Linked DNA regions of Homo sapiens: region 1 is linked to region 2. The links come from fine-mapping of genetic effects on gene expression. A gene starts in region 2. The other region holds a variant in brackets. All regions are shown on one strand. Distances are between the middles of the regions.

Evidence for each region.
Region 1: its variant is fine-mapped to the expression of C2CD2L in sun-exposed skin (GTEx, PIP 0.94).

Annotation. Positions count from the first base shown.
Region 1 is chr11:119,233,291-119,241,290 of GRCh38, reverse strand. The region is part of intron 2 of CBL (Cbl proto-oncogene); the gene reads right to left. Among named protein-coding and RNA genes, the nearest start is that of CBL, 31 kb to the right of the region's middle. The variant C/T (reference allele first, on the strand shown) is at 4,032.
Region 2 is chr11:119,101,774-119,115,535 of GRCh38, reverse strand. C2CD2L (C2CD2 like) reads right to left here and starts at 8,192. Exons shown (of 14, transcript NM_001290474.2): 1 at 7,441-8,192; 2 at 5,337-5,432; 3 at 4,856-4,975; 4 at 4,579-4,689; 5 at 4,368-4,484; 6 at 4,162-4,273; 7 at 3,907-4,015; 8 at 3,144-3,208; 9 at 2,927-3,054; 10 at 2,662-2,836; 11 at 1,824-1,925; 12 at 1,548-1,681; 13 at 1,171-1,456. The coding sequence starts at 7,794. It overlaps DPAGT1 (dolichyl-phosphate N-acetylglucosaminephosphotransferase 1), which reads left to right and starts at 13,683. Exons shown (of 9, transcript NM_001382.4): 1 at 13,683-13,762. RefSeq lists silencers at 7,558-7,837, 7,908-8,357 and enhancers at 12,415-13,127, 13,339-13,648, 12,831-13,762.

The sequences.
Region 1 (8,000 bases), 130 kb before region 2:
ATGAAAACAGGTGCAAAACCCAGAAAGATCAAAGGCAAAACAGAGGCTTATGGTTTTACTTAATTCATTTTTTATAAAGTCTAAGAAAAATGAGGGCAAATTTATCTTTGGAGAACTTAAACCAGCTAATAATAACTAAAATAAAATCATGAAGCAACAATACTATACAATAATAGATAGAATTATGTACATTCTTTTTTATTTTTTATTTTTTATTTTTGAGATGGAATCTAACTCTGTCGCCCAGGCTAGAGTGCAGTGGCACAATCTCGGCTCTGCAACCTCCACCTCCCAGGTTCAAGTGATTCTCCTGCCTCAGCCTCCCGAGTAGCTGGGATTACAGGTGCCCGCTACCACACCTGGCTAATTTTTGTATTTTTAGTAGAGACGGGGTTTCACGATGTTAGCCAGGCTGGTCTTGAACTCCTGACCTCAGGTGATCCACCCACCTCAGCCTCCCCAAGTGCTGGCATTACAGGCATGAGCCACTGCACCCAGCCAATTATGTACACTCTTATAGAGAAGATTTAAGAGACTGGCTCCTCAACACCCAAAAAACTAGGAACAAACTCCCCCATGCACATGGCTATGAAGGAACACATATGTCTCCCAAGCCACAGTCGATTAGTCTAGAGGTCTGCAACTGGCCTCTGCTGTACTAATCCCAGTACTTAACCTCTCCTTCCAGAGGTTGGTCCAGGGACAATCAAATGCTCTATACCAAGCCAAAGTGAAAACTGGAACTAAGAGTCATATCTTCTGCTACAGCAGAAACTCTTAAGATATAAAACTTGGGTGTAATAGAGACCAAACTTTTCTGCAATTTACGCATTAATCTGCACTGAGTATGGAAGTAATACCAGAAGAATCAAAGAGAACAGACAGAGTCCTGGCAACATTTCAATCCTGGTTTCAGTTGTTCCTGAGGCTTACCTGCATTCTTGCCTTTAGTGCAATTTTTCTTTTTCTTTCTTTTTTTTCTTTTTTTTTTTAATTGGTAACAGTCTCACCCTGTCACCCAGGCTGGAGTGCAGGGGCATGATCTCAGCTCACCGCAAACCTCCACCAACCGAGTTCAAGCAATTCTCGTGCCTTAGCCTCCCAAGCAGCTGGGATTACAGGTATATGCCACCATGTCCAGCTAATTGTTTTGAATTTTTTAGTAGATATGGGGTTTCACTATGTTGGCCAGGCTGGTCTCCAACTCCTGACCTCAAGTGATCTGCCCACCTCAGCCTCCCAAAGTGCTGGCATTACAGGCGTGAGCCACCATGCCCAGCCTCTTTAGTGCAATTTAAGATACTCATTTTTTCTAGAATTTTATGAGTCAACAAGTTTCTACTTTGGCTTATTCAAACTAGTTTTCTTTTCAAGATTCTTTCTATGTACTATATTTAACTAGCACTCAGCTGTCCACAACTCACCTATCAAAAAAAGAAAAACCACGAATGAAACATAAAAGGTCTCTAACAACTGTTTATGATAAAACAAAAAAGCAAAAAAAAAACAACAACCAAAAACTGAAAAACAAGACATGTAAGGAAACTTCTTTAACCTGATGAAAAGCCTTTACAAAAATCTCACAGCTAATATACTCAATGGTGAAAGGCTGAACATTTTCCTCCTCAATACCAAAAAGACAAAGATGGCCACTCCTGATATTCCTATTCAACATAGCCAAGAATAATTAGGCAAGAAAAAGAGATAAAATGCATGCAGAAAGAAAAGGAAGAAGTAAAACTACCTCTAATTGCATGTGACATGATCTGGTATCTAGGAAAGCCTAAGGAACCTACTAAAAAGCTACTAGAGCCAATAAGTAAGTTCTGCAAAGTTGTGGAGTACCAGATCAACATACAGAAGTCAACTATGTTTCTATATATGAACCTAAAATTAACAATTCCATTTACAATAGCATCAAAATGAACAAAATAGGAATAAACTTAACTAAGAAGGCAAAAAACTTGAACACTGAAAACTACAAAACATTACTGAAATACATTAAAGAAGATATAAGTAAGGCCAGGCAAGGTGGCTCATGCCTATAATCCCAGCACTTTGTGAGGTGGAGATGGGCAGATTGCTTGAGCCCAGGAGTTTGAGACCGGCATGGGCAACACGACGAAACCTCGTGTCTACAAAAAAATACAAAAATTAGCCAGGCATGATGGTGCGCACCTGTGGTCCCAGCTACTAGGGAGACTGAGGTGGGAGGATCACCTGAGCTTGGGAGGTGAAGGTTGCAGTGAGCTGAGATTGAGTCACTGTACTCCAGCCTGGGCAACAACAGAGTGAGACTCTGTCTAAAACAACAAAGACAAAAATGAATAAAAATATAAGTGGAAATATATCCAGTATTCATGTAGCGGAAAACAGTATTGTTAAGATGGCAGTAATCCCCAAAATGATCGGCAGATCTAATACAATATCTACCAAAATTCCTGCTGCTCTTGTTTACTTGAGATGAACTCTCGCTCCGTTGCCCAGCCTGGAGTGCAGTGGCTTGATCTCGGCTCACTGCATCCTCCGCCTCCTGGGTTCAAGAGATTCTCCTGCCTCAGCCTCCAGAGTAGCTGAAATTAGAGGTACTCGCCAGCACACCTGGCTAATTTTTTGTATTTTTAGTAGAGACGGGATTTCACCACACCGGCCAGGCTGGTCTCAAACTCCTGATCTCAGGTGATCCACCTACCTTGGCCTCCCAAAGTGCTGGCATTACAGGTGTGAACCACCACACCCAGCCCCTGCTGCTCTTTTTGATAAGAAAACATTGTATTTAGGGGTCGGGCACAGTGGCTCACTCCTGCAATCCCGGCACTTTGGGAGGCCGAGGCGGGCGGGTCACATGAGGCCAGGAGTTCGAGACCAGCCTGGCCAACATGGTAAAGCCCCATCCCTACTAAAAATAGAAAACTTAGCCAGGGGTTGTGGTGCATGTCTGTAATCCCAGCTACTCAGGAGGCTGAGGCAGGAGAATCGCTTGAACCCGGGAGGCAGAGCCAAGGTCATGCCACTGTACTCCAGCCTGGGTGACGGAGCAAGACTCTATCTATTAAAAAAAAAAAAATTGTATTTGGGATCAAATTGACAGGCTGATTCTAAATTCATGCAGAAATTCAAGGGAGGCTGGGCACAGTGGCTCACACCTGCCAGCATTTTGGGAGGCTGCAGTGGGCAGATCACTTGAGGTCAGGAGTTCAAGACCAGCCTGACCAACATGGTGAAACCCCGTCTCTAGTGAAAATGCAAAAATTAGCTGGGATTGTTGGTGCACACCTGTAATCCCAGCTACTCAGGAGGCTGAGGCAGGAGACTCGCTTGAACCTGGCAAGAAGAGGTTGCAGTGAGCCAAGATGGCGCCACTGCACTCCAGCCTGGGTGACAGAGTGAGACTTCATCTCAAAAAAAAAAGAAATACAATGGATCCAGAATAGCAGCCAAAACAATCTTGAAAAACAAAGCTGAGGAACTCACACTTCTTGATTCCAAAGCTTTAGTACAAAGCTACAGTAATCAAGATGGTGTGGTACTAGCATTAAGATAGATATGTAGATTAATGAAATGAAACTGAGAGTCCAGAAATAAACCCTTACACTTATGGTCAACTTACTTCCTTCCTAAAATGGCAACAAGTCCATGCAATTAAAAAGGACAGACTTTTCAACAGATGGTGCTGAGACAAAGGGATATCCACATGCAAGAGAATCAAGTTGGACCTCTACCTCATACCATATACAAAAATTAACTCAAAAATGGATCAAAGACCTAAATACAAGAGGTAAAACTATAAAATAGGAAAAAACAGGCCTCATGACCTTGAATTAGGCAATAATTTCTTAAAAGTACAAAAACCAAATAAATATTGGTCTTCACCATAATTAAAAACTTTTGTGATTCAAGGCATACTGTTAAGAAAGTGAAAAGATGACCCACAGAATGGGAGTAAAGTTTTGCAAATCATGTATCTGGTCTAGCATCCAGAATATGAAGGAAAATCTTACAACTCAACAATGAAAAGACAAATAATGCAA[C/T]TTTAAAATGGGCAAAGGATTTGAATAGATGTTTCTCCAAAGAAGATAAATAGTCCCCCTTTGCATTCCAAGATGTGCAGATGCCTGAAACCACAGATAGTACTGAACCCTGTGTATATTATGTTTTCTCACTCTGATAACTAAGATAGCTACTAGGTGACTAATAGGTGCTAGTGTATACAGCATGGAGATGCTGTACAAAGGGATGCTTTGCATCCCAGCTGGGATAAAGTAGAACGTTGTGAAATTACATCACACTACTCTGAAGGGCATGCAATTCAAAATTTATGAATTATTTCTAGAATTTTCCATTTAATATTTTCAAACCATGGTTGACTGCCAGTAACTGAATCCAAGGAAGGTTAAACTGAGGATAAAGGGGGACAACTATATACAAACATCCAAGAGGCACATGAAAAAGTATTCACATGCATTTCAAAACCTCAAGACACCACTTTACCCCTAGTAGAATAGCTGTAATAAAAAAAGTCAATAGCAATTGTTAGCAAAAAATCAGAACCCACATACATTGCTAGGGGAAAGAAAAATGGTACAGCTACTGTGGAAATAGTTTGGAGGTTACTCAAAAGTTGAACACAGAATTACCATATGACTCAGCAATTCCACTCCTATGGGTATATATATATATATATATATATATATACTCAAAAGAAGTGAAAACATATATGTATATATGTTTATATGGCTATAGCCATACAAAAACTGGCACATAATCATAGCAACATTATTCAGTAGTAGCCAAAAAGTAGAAATGACAAAAATATCATAAACAAAATATGGTATATCCATACATTGAAATATGACTTAGCCATAAAAAGGAATGAGGTACCAATACATGCTACAATATGGGTGAATTGTAAAAACATTCTAAGCGAAAGAAGACACACAAAAAAAAACCACAAAAGGCCACCGTTATGTGATTCCACTTAACACGAAACGTCCAGAGCAGGCAAATCCACATAGACAGAAAGCAGGTATTAGTGATTACCAAGCGCCAGGGGAGATCCAGAGAGAGGAACAAAGAGTGACTGCTAATGGGAGTGGGGTTTCCTGTTGGGGGGTGAAAATGTTCTGGAATTACAGAGGGGTGATGGTTGCCTGACTTTGCGAATACACTAAAAACCACTAAATTGTACACTTTAAAAGGGCAAATTTTATGGTATGTGAATTATATCTCAATTTAAAAACTGAATAGGAAAAAAAAACCTCTAAGTAATCAAAAAGACCACAAAGATCATTCGCAAAAACCCTATATATTTTTCCCTATTTACAAAAACCCTTTCAACCTGAGAAAGTTGATTGAAAAAATGAACTCCTTGATTCTCACTTGAAATCTGTTTACTCTCATTTTACATATAATTTGTACAAATCAAATCCATAAAATATTAAAAGCCTCATGTTAGGGGGAATAAAATTGATACAGACAGGCACACTGACAGTGAGGTTTAAAAAGAGGCAAAAGAACTTGTCAACATGTACTGAAGTCATTTGGTAACGGCAAATTAGATATAGTTGAGCCTTAACAACATGGGTTTAACTGTGTGGATTCACTTATACACAGACTTTTTTTTCATTATAAGTCACACCAAGTGTGCCTGCCTCTCCTGCCTCCCCTTCCACCCCCTCCACCTATTCTGCCTCTACCACAGAAAAACCAGTACTGGAATTTTCAGTACCAAGACAGCAGCCAACCCCTCCTCTTCCTACTCCTCCTCCTCAGCCTATTCAACCTGAAGACAATGAGGATGAAGACCTTTATGAGGATCCATTTCCACTTACTGAATAATAAATGTTTTATCTTCCTTATGATTTTAGTAACATTTTCTTTTCTCTAGCACACTTTATTGTGAGAATACATATAAAATAGAGGCCAAGGCGGGCGGATCACTTGAGGCCAGGAGTTTGAGACCAGCCAAGCCAATATGGTGAAACCCTGTCACTACTAAAAATACAAAAAAATCAGCCCAGCATGATGCACACACCTGTAATCCCAGCTACTCGGGAGGCTGAGGCAAGAGAATTGTTTGAATGCGGGAGGCAGAGTTTGCAGTGAGCCAATATCACTCCTTTGCACTCCAACCTGGGCAACAGAGTGAGACTCCATCTCAAAAAAAAGAAAAAAAATAGAAAAAAGAAATGCTCTTTAAAATAAACCTGTTCTATGACAGCCTATCATCTATAAGAGAAAGTCTAGAGGTCAAAAAACAGCCCTTTACAATCTGACTTCAACCCGTCTTTCCAGCGTATCTGTCTCCCACAATTCTAACCAAACCAAACTTCTCATTTTAAACATACCAGAGCCTCCATTTTCATGCCACTGTGTTAAAAGACTTTTCTTGACTTCTCTGCCTAGAAAATTCCTATTTATCCTTCAAACTCTAATTCAAATTACAAGTCCTCTATGCCACCTTCTCTAATGCCACTGGACAAAACTGTATTCGCACAGCACTTTTTAAATGTTTCATTTATTTTAAGAAGAGTTCTCGCTGTGTTGCCCAGGCTGGTCTCAATTTCTTGTGCTGAAATAATCCTCCCACCTCAGTCTTCTGAGTAGCTAGAATTACAGGTGCATGTCACTGTGCCCGGCTCCCAACAGAATTTTGTACATATCTCTATTAATGCATTTGTCATATTACCTCAAATTTGAATGCTTAACTTTCCTTTTCACCTCCTAGAACCAGAACCTAGTTCACGTACATGGTAAACAAAATTTTTAAGTTTTGGTACCTCATGAATTAAAATTATTTTTTAGAAACTCAGCAATACAATACAAAATGACTAGTTAGCTAAAAGGTCCATACAGTCGAGGTTTTAACAAAAGTTACAAAATCTGAATATTTAAAAGGAATAAAGTTCACTTCCAAATAAACGAGAAGTTACAAAGGCTCTTACGGATTGAATTCACTCAGAATCTTTTTAAGAAAAGATGGACAGGCCAGCTGAAGTGGCTCTCAACTGTAATCCCAACACTTTGGGAGGCTGAGGCAGGCGGATCCCCTGAGGTCAGGAGTTCAACACCAGCTTGCCAACATGGCAAAACACCATCTCTACTAAAAATACAAAAATTAGCCGGGCACAGCGGTGCATGCTTGTAATCCCAGCTACTAAGGAGGCTGAGACAGAAGAATCACTTGAACCCAAGAGGCGGAGGTTGCGGTGAGCCAAGATCACACCACTGCACTCCAGCCTGGGTGACAACAGCAAGACTCCGTCTCAAACAAAACAAAACAAAACAAAAGAAAGAAAGAAAGAAAAGATGGACATTTTGAGTCCATTACTCAGACTACACCTGAGTAATTTGTTGCAATAACGGTAATATGGATAATCATGTGCATAAAATTTTAATTGAAAGCTAGGGTTGCCAGAATCTAGGCCAACAGGCCCAAAGGAAAGGTAGACAACAAGGACACCATTTAGTATGTTACTGCTAGAGTCATGCATGGTAACCAGATGACTTCAGAAATACTGTTCCTTCTAATTCAAGTCACTACTCAAGAATAATTTACTCACTAAAAAATTCTAGTGGAATTATTTTATTACTCATTCTAGATGAGTTAATATTTAGTTCAAATTGAACAAAATAAAACACAATTACATCCACACATACAGTTAACTTATTTCTCTCCCAGTATGTAATTTACGACAGCTAAGCTAACAATATGCAGGATAGCCTATAGTTTCTGGTATTTAATTAACACAAAAGAGGGCCAGGCGTGATGGCTCACATCTGTAATCCCAGCACCTTGTGAGGCCAAAGCGGGCAGATCACCTGAAGTCAGGAGTTCGAGACCAGCCTGGCCAAGATGGTGAAACCCCATCTCTACTAAAAACACAAAAATTAATCAGGCATGGTGGTGCACATCTATAATCCCAGCTAGTCAGGAGGCTGAGACAGGAGAATCACTTGAACCTGGAGGCTGAGATCGCACCACTGCACTCCAGCCTGGG
Region 2 (13,762 bases):
GTGCTCACCCAGCAGGCTTTGGAGGTAGAAACCTCATTATCTCAAGAAGTGATGCAGGCTTAAAAAATAGATAGATAGATCCATGGTTGATAGTCTCACTGGTAGAGGAATGAAGATGTTTTAGGGTGAGCCTCTCATCTTTTAAAGTTAGAAGAACTACCACCACTGGTCACTGCCTGTCTTGCTGCCAGATGGATAATCCAAGGGTAGGATTTCTTATACTCATTGGGGAGAGGGTGCAGATTGAAAGGGAAGAATTTTTTTTTTTTTTTTTTTTTTTTGAGACAGAGTCTCACTCTGTCACCCAGGCTGGAGTGCAGTGTCATGATCTGGGCTCACTGCAACCTCCAACCCCCCAGTTCAAGCGATTCTCCTGCCTCAGCCTCCCAAGTAGCTGGGATTATAGGCGCCTGCCACCACGTCTGGCTAATGTTTGTATTTTTAGTAGAGATGGGGTTTACCCATGTTGGCCAGGCTGGTCTTGAACTCCTGACCTTGTGATCCACCCGCTTTGGCCTCCCAAAGTGCTAGGATTACAGGCATTAACCACCGTGCCCAGCCATGGAAAAAAAAAATTTTTTTTGAGACAGGGTCTCACTCTGTCACCCAGGCTGGAGTGCAGTGGCACAATCACGGCTCACTGCTTCAACCTCCTTGAACCTCAACCTCCCAGGCTCAAGGAATCCTCCCTCCTCAGCCCCCTGAGTAGCTGAGATTACAGGTGTGTGCCACTACGCCCAGCCAATTTATTGTATTTTTAGTAGAGATGGGGTCTCGCCATGTTGCCCAGGCTAGTCTTGAACTCCTGGACTCAGGTAAGCCACCCGCCTTGGCCTCCCAAAGTGCCGGTGTGAGCCACCACACCCTGCCTAGGAATAAATTTTTATAATTTTTTTTTAAAGGGCAGGAAAAATGGCACTTAGACTCAGGAAGAAAGAACAATGGAGGTAAAGGGAAATAATTTGGCATCCCTTCCTATCACAAGCATGTCAGATCTAGGCCAGGAACCAAGGCACCAAGATCCCCCTCTAGGCTAGCTTGGCTGAACTAGGCTGGGAATCCGGCTATCTCTTAGGGGAGGAAGGAGAAGGCACACTGGCTCGAGGTCCCCCAGGTCATGATATGTGTATAAAAGAAGAGATGAGGGGCACCCTGCCAACGTCCCCCTACCTTTGTGATCCTTGAGGCTGCGGGTCTCCAGGGCACCAGTGGACCCCGTTTCCGACTCAATATCATCCACAGATGGCCTCTCAGAAATATCCGAACGGGTTGTCTCGTCTGCTTCCTGGACACTTGTGGGACTAGAGAGGGCATCTAGCGGTCCTGGAGACATGGCTGGTGGGTCTGAGGGAGGTGAAGAGGGGCCTCCGCTGGTCCCTGCATCATCCTGCACTGAGGCTTCCAGGGATGCCGCATAGCCCAGGGATAGCGCCAACTCGTCCTGAGCAATGGGCACCTGGCAGGAGGGACGGGTTTTAATGGGCAGGAGTGACCGACCCATTAGGGCTTTCTCCCCATCCCAGCTCCTCTCCCCAGAGCCCTGTTACCTTGGAAACACCAGAGATGATGAGAGTGCTGCGCTTGGTGGGTGTCTTCTTGGCCACCCGCCCACTGGGCTCTGTCAGCTGGCGAATCGCTGTCTCTGCTACAGGGTCCAAGCCGTTGGAAAGGTGGCTGTCCCCTGCTAGGGGTGCAGAGAATGAATAACCTGACTTCTCCCTGGCTCTTTCTTGGATTGGAACTCCTCCTATCCCACCCAGAGTACTTTTTGATGCTGGGGCACCAGGGCCAACCCACACTCATGCACCCCATTCCCCACTCACGGCTGCTGCTATGGGAGGTATTGCTGGGGCCACTGCTCTCACTCAGCACAGTTGTCGTCTTCTCGGTCACCTCCACCTTGGACGGGGAGCGGGAGGGGGAGTCTGGTGGGTGGGGGAGGGTCAGTGAGCTGGGAGTTGCTTCAGAGTGGCCCCCACCCCTACTGTCTTTGTTGAGATGCAGACTTTGGGTGACTCAGAGGGCAAGAATGATTAAAGGGTGATTAATCACAAGGGTGATTAGGAAGATGCCGTGGGGACTAAAAGACACCCCAGGAGCTAATGGGAGTGTAGGAAAGTGCCATGGGGCCTGCTGAAGGTGTGGGGAGATGCTATGAAAATATGGAGCGGGGACAGAGGGGGTACTGGGGCTCCCTGAAGTTGGGGCAATTCAGTGGGGCCCCTATAATGGCAGAAGTGCCATGGGGGCCCACTGAGTGGGGTAGAAATGCCACAGAGGCCTCTGGGTTTGTTGGAGGACCCCAGGGGGTGCTGGAGGGCTGAGGGTAGCAGGATGGACAATTATAGTCAGCTGGGGCTAAGGACACCTGTGAAAAGCCAGAGGGGAAGCTGGAAGGTAGGAGTGCAACAGTCCTGTATGAGGAGGGGCAGGAGGATCCAGAAGGGTGGCAGAGTGAGAGGAATTGCTGGGGAAATGGCAGGAGGTAAGGGAAAGTTTGGAAGAGACAAAGATTGGGAGGAAGATGTGGTAGGACTGGAATGGAATGTCTGAAAACAGGGGGAGTTGGAATTAAGGCTCTCTCCTCTTTCACTGTCCTGCCTTGGGTCTGCAGTCCCGGGCCCCTGGCTAGAGCTGGGCTCCCAGGCTCCTTCTCTTTACCTAATTTGCCGTCTATACGGGGCCGGGACTGGACAGTGGTGACTGTGGTGACAATGGTGCCATCGGGCATGATGGTCCGGTCAAGCTCAATCTTCTTGGTAGGTGTGATGCTGGGGCGTGGAGTGGAGGAGGTGGGAGTACCCAGGTTCCGGGGAGAGCCCTCCTCATAGTGAAGCTGCCCAGGGGTGGGAGAGAGAAGAGACAGAGCCTCGGAGACTGCCCATCCCCTGTGTCCTCCCACCTACCCCAGGGGTCAGCTTCTCACCTCCACTGCCATGGTGGCTGCTGGTCCCAGGGCTTTCCCTGGCCCTGGGGTGAGTGGGCACAACTGTCTTCGAGACAGTGGTCTGGAGGGGGAGCCCACAGGCAGTGTGGCCTGGCCTAGGAGTTCGGCTGGGGAAAGGGATGGCACTGTGAGCTGGGCCCATGGCCAGACCCCACTCTGTACCCACCCAGGGGTGCCCCTCCCACCCCTCACTTACTGTCTCCACAGCTGCTGCTCCTCAGCACTTTGAGGGTCAGCTCCCGGCTCTGGGGGCCCAGATCCCTGTGGGACAAGAGGAGATGGGGCAGGAAGGAGAAAATTAGCAAGCTGAACCCACACTTGAGTGGATCACAGGCCAGAGGCAGAGAGCTGTGTACATAAATAAAACGGCATAAATGCTCCAATCAGATTCTCCTGGCCTCCAAATTCTCTCTCGTCCCAAGAGAAAGGGACAGGGCCTGAGTGGAAACCATGCTTCTCAGCTATGCATTCAAATCCTCCCTGGTCCTGCTCTTCCTGTCTTGCCAGTCTCTCAGTTGCAAGCCACCCTCTTTCATTTGCTCCAGCTCTTCCCTCTGCCGAGAATACTTTCACACTCTGATGAAATCCTACTCTTGCTCTAAAGTGTGGTTTAAATGTCATCTCCTCCATGAAGCCTACTCTGATCCTTATTCCCTCATGGGAATTAATCTCCCCCCCACCTAGGCACTCTGACGGCACATTACATAAACCTCAACTGGAGCGGTTTTACCATCTTCTTTATGTACACCTGTCTCTGCCTCAAGCTTGTCATTGACCCAGGGGTGGGGGCTGTATCTTGGTCAAGTCTGTATCCCTAAGACCCACGCCAGGGCCTGGCATACAATAGGAGCTCACGCCAAAGGCTACTGAAAACAGAGCTGATTCCTGCAAGGACTGTGCTGGAAAGGTTTGATCCTCTCTGCTCTGGAGCATGGGGTCGGGGCAGGGTTACTCCTTACAGTGCCAGGTCTTCTGTCCACTCCACCTCGGATCCAGCCCTCGCGGGCTTGGTCCACTTCTGCTGCATGGGGTTGTCGAGTTCAGCTACACAGCACAGTTCCTCGGTGCCTGTGATGAACCAGAAGTTAGAAGATGCTCAGATCAGAGATGGGAAGTCACTGCAGAATAAAGAGGCTGTACCCTTGGCAGAGGGGCAGAGAGCATCTGCAACCAACCATAGCCTTGGCAGTCCCGCAGCCACTTCCAGCTCTCACCTTCCAGCTCATTTCCCAAGTGAGATGCCCGAAGCTGCCGTAGGAATAACCGGTTAGGTCTGGGGATGGCTGGCTGAGCCTGGGGCATCATGGGTGGCTTCTCACTGGGTACCTAAGAGCAGAAGAAGGTCCAAAGAGCAAGAATCCTGACATAGCACCCTAGGAACAAGGTGCATGCAAATCTTTTGCTTTGGGTGCCAACTCACCAGGCCTCCTGGGGCAGAGCAAGCCCTGAGGTTGACCATCATGGCTGGCTGGGTGCTGACTATGGCATCCTTGATCAGTTCCTCAATTGTGGAGAGCTCCACTTGTTCTTCACCTCTCTGCAGAGAGAAGAAGGGAACAACAAGGAGGTGGATCCCCCACCTCTGCCTCCCTCCCCGTTCTGCCTCTTCTCTGCCAGCTCTGCCTCCTTACCTCCCTGGCCTGAAGCTTGGGAAGCACCGTTAGGCTGAGATCTGGGCGATCAGTGAAGGCCCAGGATATGAGCAGCCCCTCACCAGGGATTTCCTCCAGGTTGACTTCCAACTACAGACAGGAACAAAGTGACTGGGCTGACTTGCCCCATTTACCCAAGGACTCCTAATTCGAGGACTCTCCCTTCCTGAATTCCATCCCAGAGAGGAAACAAATGGAAGAAGCTGAGCCAATGGAACCGCCCCTGCCCAACTCAGTTTCCCACATCCCCTTCTACCTGTGTTGGTGGCAGTGTCAGAGTGACGTGGTAGGTCTCCATGGAGACGGCAGCGGGGGACTGCTGGGTCACAGAGACTGGGAACCGCACCTCCTCAGCAGAGAGCTGGCAACGCAGCACCTGAGACCGGCGAGGTGGGTCAGATGTGGGGGAAGGGTGCTCACCCTGCTTTGAACTGCCCTGTAATAGTTCAGCAGACCCCTCCCCACTTCCGTTTTCCTAAGGACTTCATGTTTTCAGGATCATAAATCCCTAAAAGAATCAGATAAATGCCAAAGACTCCTCTCCCCAGAAAAATGCATATAAACACACATCCAACATTTTGCACATAACTTCAATGGGATTCTCAGACTTCCTGAAACCAATCCTTAGATCCATAAGGCATTCACAGACTCCAGGTTAAGAACCTCTGGACTAAAGGGAGCCCTTGGGGTCAGTCCTTCTTGGACCCCAAAGAGGGCAGTGCCCATCAGACCCTTACCATGGTATGCTCAGATTGGTCTACGCAGGTCACATGACTGATGCTGGCTCTGGGTGGGAGTTGGGGCACCTCCTCAAAGGCGATTTGGATGGAGCTCTGAGGGAGTAATGTGGGCATTGGATCAGGTCTCTGGAGCTGCCCCCCACAGGGTTGGCCTGCTCAGTTGCTGGCTGGACTCTGCCACTGCGGAGGCCTCAGCTGCAGGCTGGCTTCTGGCCCCTCCTTGGCTCAGGGCTTTAAGACAGGAGGTAGTCCCCTCAAGGCCTGCCTCTCCAGGGGCCTGTAGCTGCTAGGAGCCACTGAGCAATGGGGAGGTAGTCCACCTCAGAGACTAGATCACCTTAAGCTGAAGACCCTGGCTTCCTCCTGGAATACCAAGAGCTTCCTTCTTCTTCTCCCTGCAATCCCTTTCATCCCCTACCCTACCCCCTAAAAAAACAAATAACAAACAAACAAAAAATCCTACATAGAAAAAAGTTAAGGTGCTGGTTGCCACCTATATATAATAGCTGGGCAGAGGGAAAGGGCTAAGCCCCGGTAAAGGTGGTAGAGCCACCTTGTTCAAGATAAGAGCTGCAGAAATGAAGCTAAGCCTTCTTCCAAATAAATAAGATGTGGAGGCTTCAAGAGTATGATGCTTCATATTCTTGGAGATGAAGATGAGCATGGCCTTGGGGATCCGTACCAGGGGGACTGGGAAGAGATACAAGCTCAGAGGACCCAAGAGTCCAGGGGCCTGGCTAATTCCTCAAGGCAGATAGCAGGACGGTATTAGAGAGCAGAAAGCTGCTTAGATCTCAAAAGAGCTGCTCCCTAATTCGTCCACAGTAATGGAAGCAACCTACCGCAGCCCCACCTGGAGAGCAGTGCGGACACAGAATTGAGGAAGGGGCACAGAATTGGCTGGCAACTCTTCCTTGGGTCTTGAGATGGAGGAAACAAATCCATAGGGTTCATTTGCTTGGCAAACCAGGGGAAGCCAACTCCTTTGCTCTGGTAGCTGTCTCATTCAAAGGCTAGGCCAAGGAAGATGGGGAGATGGATGCTTGAAACCTCAATCTCCCCACCCTCTGCAAGGGAGGCCAATGTCCAGTTGAGTCAGCTATCCTGGGGAGTTGCTTCTGACCGAGGGACAAGGTACAGGGAGAGTTGGATGAAGAGGTGGGTTCAAGGTGTAAACTGACAGATGCCATCTGGCTTTTAGCCAGCCAGCTGGACAGAGTAAATAGAGCAATTTCTTGTGGACATTTCTGTTTCCGGCATCTGGGGAACTAGTAAGGTAAAGCCTCCAAACTCATAGTGGCTGGAAATAGAGAACCCTCTGAGCAAGGAGCTGATGGACTGTGAGAGCAAGGAGAGATTGCTGGGTCAGGATGGGAGGGAGCTCCAGAAAAGAGAGACTTCTACCTCCCACCTTATCTCCATCTCATGACCACGCTTCCTGCCCCACTTCCTGGGAGGCCAGATGCCCATGGTGCAATGGGAGGAAGTAGGCTGGACTGGTTTGTGACTGACCCTCAAGGGGCAGTTCCAAGCTCATCTACTGGTAGGGGCACTGTCAATCTGCTCTCCACCTGAACACTCCCCAACCCCCAGTGAACCACAGGCCAGCATGGAGGAGAAGGATGTGTTTGACTGTAGCAGTGAAATTACTGTCGGGTAGGGGGGTGATTCAGGCTCCTTGGGGATCTGCCTGACCACACCAGGGATTTGGGGCATGAAATGTTAAATGGGTGTGGTGGCATGAGAAGCAGGCAAATTCCTTCTGCAGGTGCACCTGTCTCCCATGCCCCAACACAACCAGCACCCAGGCAAGGCGGAAGTGCCCTCAGGCACAGGGATTAGCGTTGCTATGAGAACAGCAACTTGTGCATGGGTTTGGAACCAGAGTACCTTGCCCACAGAAATGGAAGTCTGGGGACCCAGTTGGATTTCTACAACCTCCAGCCTTAGCGGCACCCTTTTCTCTGATCCGGGAGGGGAAGAGAAGCCATAGGGTTCCCCAGTTTATGCCCACCCTCGTCTGGCCTCCTAGCACGAGCAGTCAGTCCCTCCCCTGGAAGGAAAGGCTGAAGGGACCACCCAAGCGCTTGGTCCAACTCACCCCGTTTCTGCAGGCCTGCTCGTTCAGCGCTCGCACCCAAGCCCGCTGCCAGTTCTCCCGGAAAGACTTGAAGGCGAAGAGTGACGCCAGGAGGCCCCGGACTCCTGGCTCCTCGGCGGCGCCAGCCCGAGTCGCCCGCAGCCGCAGCAGCGAGCGCCACACGCCCAGCTCCCGCAGGGAACCCGCGGGTTCCCCGGCTAAGGCGGGTCCCGGGCCCCGGTCCCCGCGGGCCCGCGCCAGCCACAAGCCCCGGGCATATTGCAGCAGCCAGGCGAACACCGTGAGCAGCGAGGCGGCGAAGAGGATCAGCAAGGCCGCCCAGCCCACGTCCCGCTGCCCCCAGCCCGGATCCATGCTCCGCGCGGGCTCCGATCCCGGTCCCGGCTGGGGCTCACCCGCTGCCCCGGGGGAGCATGGCCCGGGCGGGCCGCGGGGAGGAGGTGGGCTCCCCCGGGGCTGGGCGCGCGGGGTCGGGGGCTCTCCGCGGCTGAGTGCCCAGGACTAGTGGGTGCCACAGGGCGAGGAGAGGAGGTCCTCGGGGGTCGCGATGCCGGGGTCTCTGTCTCCGTGGTCCGGGTCTCTCCTAGCTTGGTCAGCAGTCGGACCCGTTAGTCGCCGGCCAGTGCCCGACTCCTCCCACCGCGCGGGCCCCGCCGGACCCTGGAGGGGACTGGTCTGCAGAGACGCTGGGGCTCGCGGGCCGGCACCGGCTCCGGGAGGGCTGCGTGCGCAGAGCTGACACTGACAACACCGCCGGCGCCCCGCCCCCACCCGCCCTTAAAGGAGCCGCACCCGCGCCGGGCGGGGCCAGGACAGCCTGGCGCTCCCTCGCTGGAGGAGGGCGGGAGGGCTAGCAGCGAGCGGAGGAGGTTCCGGGGTTGAAAATAGGCGGGATCTTTGATCACCTCGCCCCATCTTGCAATCGCGGTGCTCCCACACTCAGCTCAAGGCAAGAGTAACTTCACTTACCTAAGATGCTGCCTTTGCTTTCCCCTATGCTTGTTAGATTTCCACAGGTCGGACGCCTGTGAGGTTAAGAAGGAGGTGACCCCTGTGGAAATCACCGCCCCCTTCTCCCAACACCCCCAGACTCAGCGACTTCTAGCTTCCCATTTCCTGGGGGAAGCTAGGCCCAGGGTAAGGAGACGCAGAGCGTCCCTCCCAGATAGAAGTGTCTGGCAGAGGTCCAGCTGATGTCAACAGAGAGAAAGCAGAACCTGAAGCTGGGAGAGGTTGAGAGTAGAACACCGAATTTGAATTCCCCCCACCATCATCACCCTCCTTCCTCTTGGAGCTTGGACCCAGAAACAGCCCCATTAACCTCCTTGCTCGTGTAGGTTTGTTCTGGAGATTCCCAAGCCCAGGCTGTGTGTCTGTTTTTAAAAATAATGTATTTCCATAGTAACAGCTCCTGCCTATGGAGCACGTGTAGAGGGGGTGGTAATGACAAGGGAGCTGGCAATGTAGCACTGGACTATCAATAGATTCAGCCACAAGACCTTGCCACTCTAAGTATGTGATATCCCAACAAGCTCCCAAGAAATGGTGCTGTAGGTACACTGCCCAACCTCTGGCCTCAGAAGCCATCTTTTCCTAGACTCAAGGAGTTGATTCAACCTCTACAGGACTGGGGCTCATCAATGCTTGCTGAGGACAGGGGAAGGAAATACCTGCAAAAGGATTCAAAGGAATCCTGGGGGAATTCACATTCTCCCAAGAGCCCCTTCTTCATACATGTGGGAAGGTCTTTGGCACACAGTCCCTTTCTTAAAGAGGTAGGATGGAAAGGTGTTAAGTATCTTTCTCCCAAACCCAAGTAGTTGTCTGAGGAATGAGCACATGAGAATAAGAGAATAAACAATGCCTTCTGAAGTGTGGGATGGCAGGGCTAGACAGAAACTGACAGGTCAGCAACAGGTTTGTCTGAGCCAGAGGAGGTGGTGGGGTAGCCTGGGCCTCCCTAGATTTCCCTGTAAGGAATGATGGGGAGAGGTGGGGGTGAATGAGGTAACCTCCTGTGGCCCTGCCCATGCATTGTCACTGGACTGCCAAATCAGTGGAGATTCCTAGAGTCTGGGTTTCTAATCTCAAAGGGAGGAGAAGACATGAAATCAAGGGAGGAGAGAACTCAGGGCCAGAACCAGGGATGCAGGAGGAAGCTGTCAGTGGGAAGAGCAGCTAGGGTTTAGGGGAGCAGGTTATGCAGGAAGTTGTCCAGGTAGAAGCTTTCCCTATGAAGACCCTCTTCCCCCAAGAATCCTTCAGGAACCCTCAGACCCCCTAGTGATCTCCATTCTCTGACTTCTTTGATTTATTCCCTCAACTTCTCCACTGAGTGCTTGGTCCTATGCTGCCAGATACTGCTTCACAATTCAGTATCTGAACTGTGAGTCTACCTAGTTACATGAGTCTCCCTAGTTAGTCCTCCCTCTTTTTTTTTTTTTTTTTCTCTTTTCTTGAGACAGAAAGTCACTGTTGCCCAGGCTGGGGTGCAGTAGCGAGATCTTGGCTCACTGCAACCTCCACCTCCCAGGTTTGAGTGATTCTCCTGCCTCAGCCTACCAAGTAGTTGGGACTATAGGCATGCGCCATCATGCCTGGCTAATTTTTGTTATTTTTAGTAGAGACAGGGTTTCACCATGTTGGCCAGGCTGATCTCGAACTCCTGACCTCAGGTGATCCTCCCGCCTCGGCCTCCCAAAGTGCTGGGATTACAGGTGAGAGCCACTGTGCCCAGCCTAGTCCTCCTTCTTTCTTCCATTACTTAGACCTCTAGCACTTACATTCTGCCTTAGAGTCTAGCTGATTGTTTATATGTCTGCTTTTTCCATGCATCAGGAAGCTGCCTAGGGGTGGGAACCATGTCTTAGTCATCTCTTTTCCCTCAAATTCAACCAAGATGCTCCAAATATGCTGAAGTAGACTCCCTGGGGGCAAGCAACTGCAATTATATTAGTTTGTATCCTCCACAGTACTGAAGAGCTTCCTATGCACATAGTAGGGATTAACAAACTTTGTAATTTTAAGAAGTCTAACAGAAAATACTCAAGTATGCTTTGAGAATTTCTATGCCATTTCTGTCTTTTGAAATATCATTCATGCCATACCAGTGGAATGGGAAATCCTGGGGCTTGCTTTTAATTAACAACTTTTTTCTAGACTAAGAGGGGAGAGGTGGGAGGAAAAGGAAAAAGAGTGATTCAGCTGACTGGACAGAGCCACAGATAGAGTCCTGCAAGTATCACAGCCCCAGACTATCCAGAGGGGTCTCATTGTCTTTGTGGCACTATGAAACATTTTTGGGACAGGCTTTGTCTAGCAATCACATTCAGTGGATTGGCCTTGCTCATTGGGAGCCACTCAAGGCTACTTAGAAGAGGTGTGCATCTCAAACACTGTCTGCTCAGTCCAGGGCCACTGACAAGTCAACTGGTCTGTGAATCCTAGGGCCGGCTTCAGCATTCAGGAAAACGCTTTGAACTTTTACCAGGGAAGGCACACAATTTCAAGTGAAGCCAAAAGTCATGTGTTTGTTTCTCCTTCTGATTAGTCTGATCATCAACTGGGACTTTATCATCATGGGAACAAAAATACTCAGATTATCTGACAAGTATCTTAGTAACCATTTTCTGATAGTAACATGTATATGTGGATGATGAATCCTTAGTCTCTCTTGTCTTTGATTACATCCTTCCACCCTCCCCAGGAGGGTGGTGGTAGGGAGGGCTAATGATCTCTGGAGAAGAAAGAGATAAAGCTTCCCAATACCAGGCTGGGAAGGAAGATTTATTAGGATTGGCCTCCTAATAAAAAAGGAAATAGATACAGACTGGCTCTCAGACCTCCAGGGAGTCTCAGTATACTCGTCATCAACAAGATAACTGAATGCTGCCTCCTCTGGGATCCCACAAGCTCCTCCTTTCCACCAGCTTCTGGTGTCTCACTGTCGCTGCCTGTGAAAGGTCCTTCTACTCTTATAATCTACTGAAATGATACTTCTCTTCCTCAAGACCACTTACTCTGGTCACAACTAATTGCTCCCTCCATATGCACCTATTGCCCTCAGTCCTCCTTTCAGCCTCAGCCTCATTATGTGTGATGATGCCTTCCTTGTACACAGATGTCTGTGTTCCTAGCCCCATGGGGACACCCTGTGGAAGAGAAAACACTTGCCTCCCGGGAGTTTCTAGTTTAAAAGGGGCACACGTGCATACACACAACACACACAGAAAAATAATAGCAGTGGGATAAGTACTGAAAATCTGGTGGAATACTAGCAAGTAAATTACGAAAATTTATGTATTTTATACATATCTGGGTTTTTGTTGTTGTTAATTAGAGCCATTTTCAAGTAGAAAAGCCATTTCACATCTGATTTAGTTTGTTTGTTTGTTTGTTTTGAGACAGTTTCCCCTCTGTTGCCCAGGCTGGGATGCAGTGGCATGATCGCGGCTCACTGCAACCTCCTCATCCCAGGTTCAAGCGATCCTCCTGCCTCAGCCTCCTGAGTAGCTGAGATTACAGGCATGTGCCACCACACCCGGCTAATTTTTGTATTTTCAGTAGAGACGGGGTTTCACCGTGTTGGCCAGGCTGGTCTCGAACTCCTGACCTCAAGTGAGCCACCCACCTTCGCCTACCAAAGTGCTGGGATTACAGACGTTAGCCACTGCGCCCGGCCTCACATCTGATTTTGAGGGAAAGAAGAAACTATCTTCGGCTTAAAAACGGTCAACATGACCCTGACTCCTGGAACATGCCATAGAGGGAAGAGTGGACAAAGCGCTAGGCTATTGGAGTCCTTTCCCTAACTCACTGGTGGTGACTTCCTCTCTGACAAATGGAAATCATTTGCCGCCTAAGAGCCTGTCGGGGAATGAAAGGTAATAAAGATGCTGGTGAACTGGCTGGGCGTGGTGGCTCACGCCTGTACTCCCAGCATTTTGGGAGGCCAAGGCGGGCAGATCACCTGAGGTCGGGAGTCCCAAACCAGCCTGACCAACATAGGGAAATCCCGTCTCTACTAAAAATACAAAATTAGCCGGGCGTGGTGGCGCATGCCTGTAATTCCAGCTACTGCCTGTAATCCCAGCTACTCGGGAGGCTGAGGCAGGAGAATCTCTTGAACCTGGGAGGTGGAGGTTTCGGTGAGCCGAGATCGCGCCATTGCACTCCAGCCTGGGCAACAAGAGCGAAACTCTGTCTCAAAAAAAAAAAAAAAAAAAAAAAAAAAAAGCTGGTGAATTGTTGTTTGCAGGGGAACAGGCCAAGCAAAATGCACAGCAACCTGCAGGAGGCCAAGCAAAATGCACAGTGACCTACAGGAAGAAACCTGACTGGGAGTTCCTCAGACTCACAGGAAATCAGTTGTGGGTCTGATTCCTCTCCCTCCTCAGCTCTTTCCAGAGCCTCAGCCTGGAAATCTCCATCTCCTCCTTGTGGGAGCTAGGTACAATGCAGTGATCCACGGCCAAGCTGAAGTCTCGAGTTAAATCCAAGACCTGAGGGTACTCCCAATCCCTCAGTGAAGTGCTGCGCTGGGTTGCCGGGCAACTAACTGCTACAGCTGGGGCAGAAGGTGGGTGGGATGCTGAGAAAAAAATACCAGAATCGAGGACAAGAAAAACAGAGTGGGAGGGGCTTTTCAAGGATCTACGCTTTAGAATTTACACCATCCTTCCAAATCGTAGCTTTGTTTCCGGGAACTGAGTTGTGTTTACCTTGGCTTCCGACTATGTTGGCAACAGGTTTCCTGCAAGAAACAGGCGCGTCTCCACACCCTCGTCCCTCCTCCCCACCCCCTGCCTTTCAATAGCCATCTTCCTGGAGCCGGAGGCATCCCAGATTAAGGGAGAGGTACGGGCCCTTTAAGCTTGACCTATGGAGGCGGACGGAGCTAAAACTGACGTGGAACCGGAATGTGAGCGGTGTCAGACACGTGGTACAAGGAGGCATTCATCTTGGAACCGGGCAATTGGCATTTCCGCTCTGGGTAGTACATCTTTAACATAATGTTAGGGAAGTATCCGTTCTTGGCTGCCTTTCTTTAATTGCGTTTCCAGTACTCTCTCGGTGATTCTACTCTTGAACATAGGATGAAATTTGGAATCACACTTCTCTTCCACTTCCATCCCCACCCTCTAATGCCCATATTAAAAATGGCGGCCGCCGCCTTCCGCAGTAATGGTTGTTCAGCGAACAAGATCCGGGCGGAAACAGTAGATAGGCGGGTGCAGCGGGGCAGAACATAGGTTGCCTTAGAGAGGTTCCCCGGTGTCCCGACGGCGGCTCAAGTCAGAGTTGCTGGGTTTTGCTCAGATTG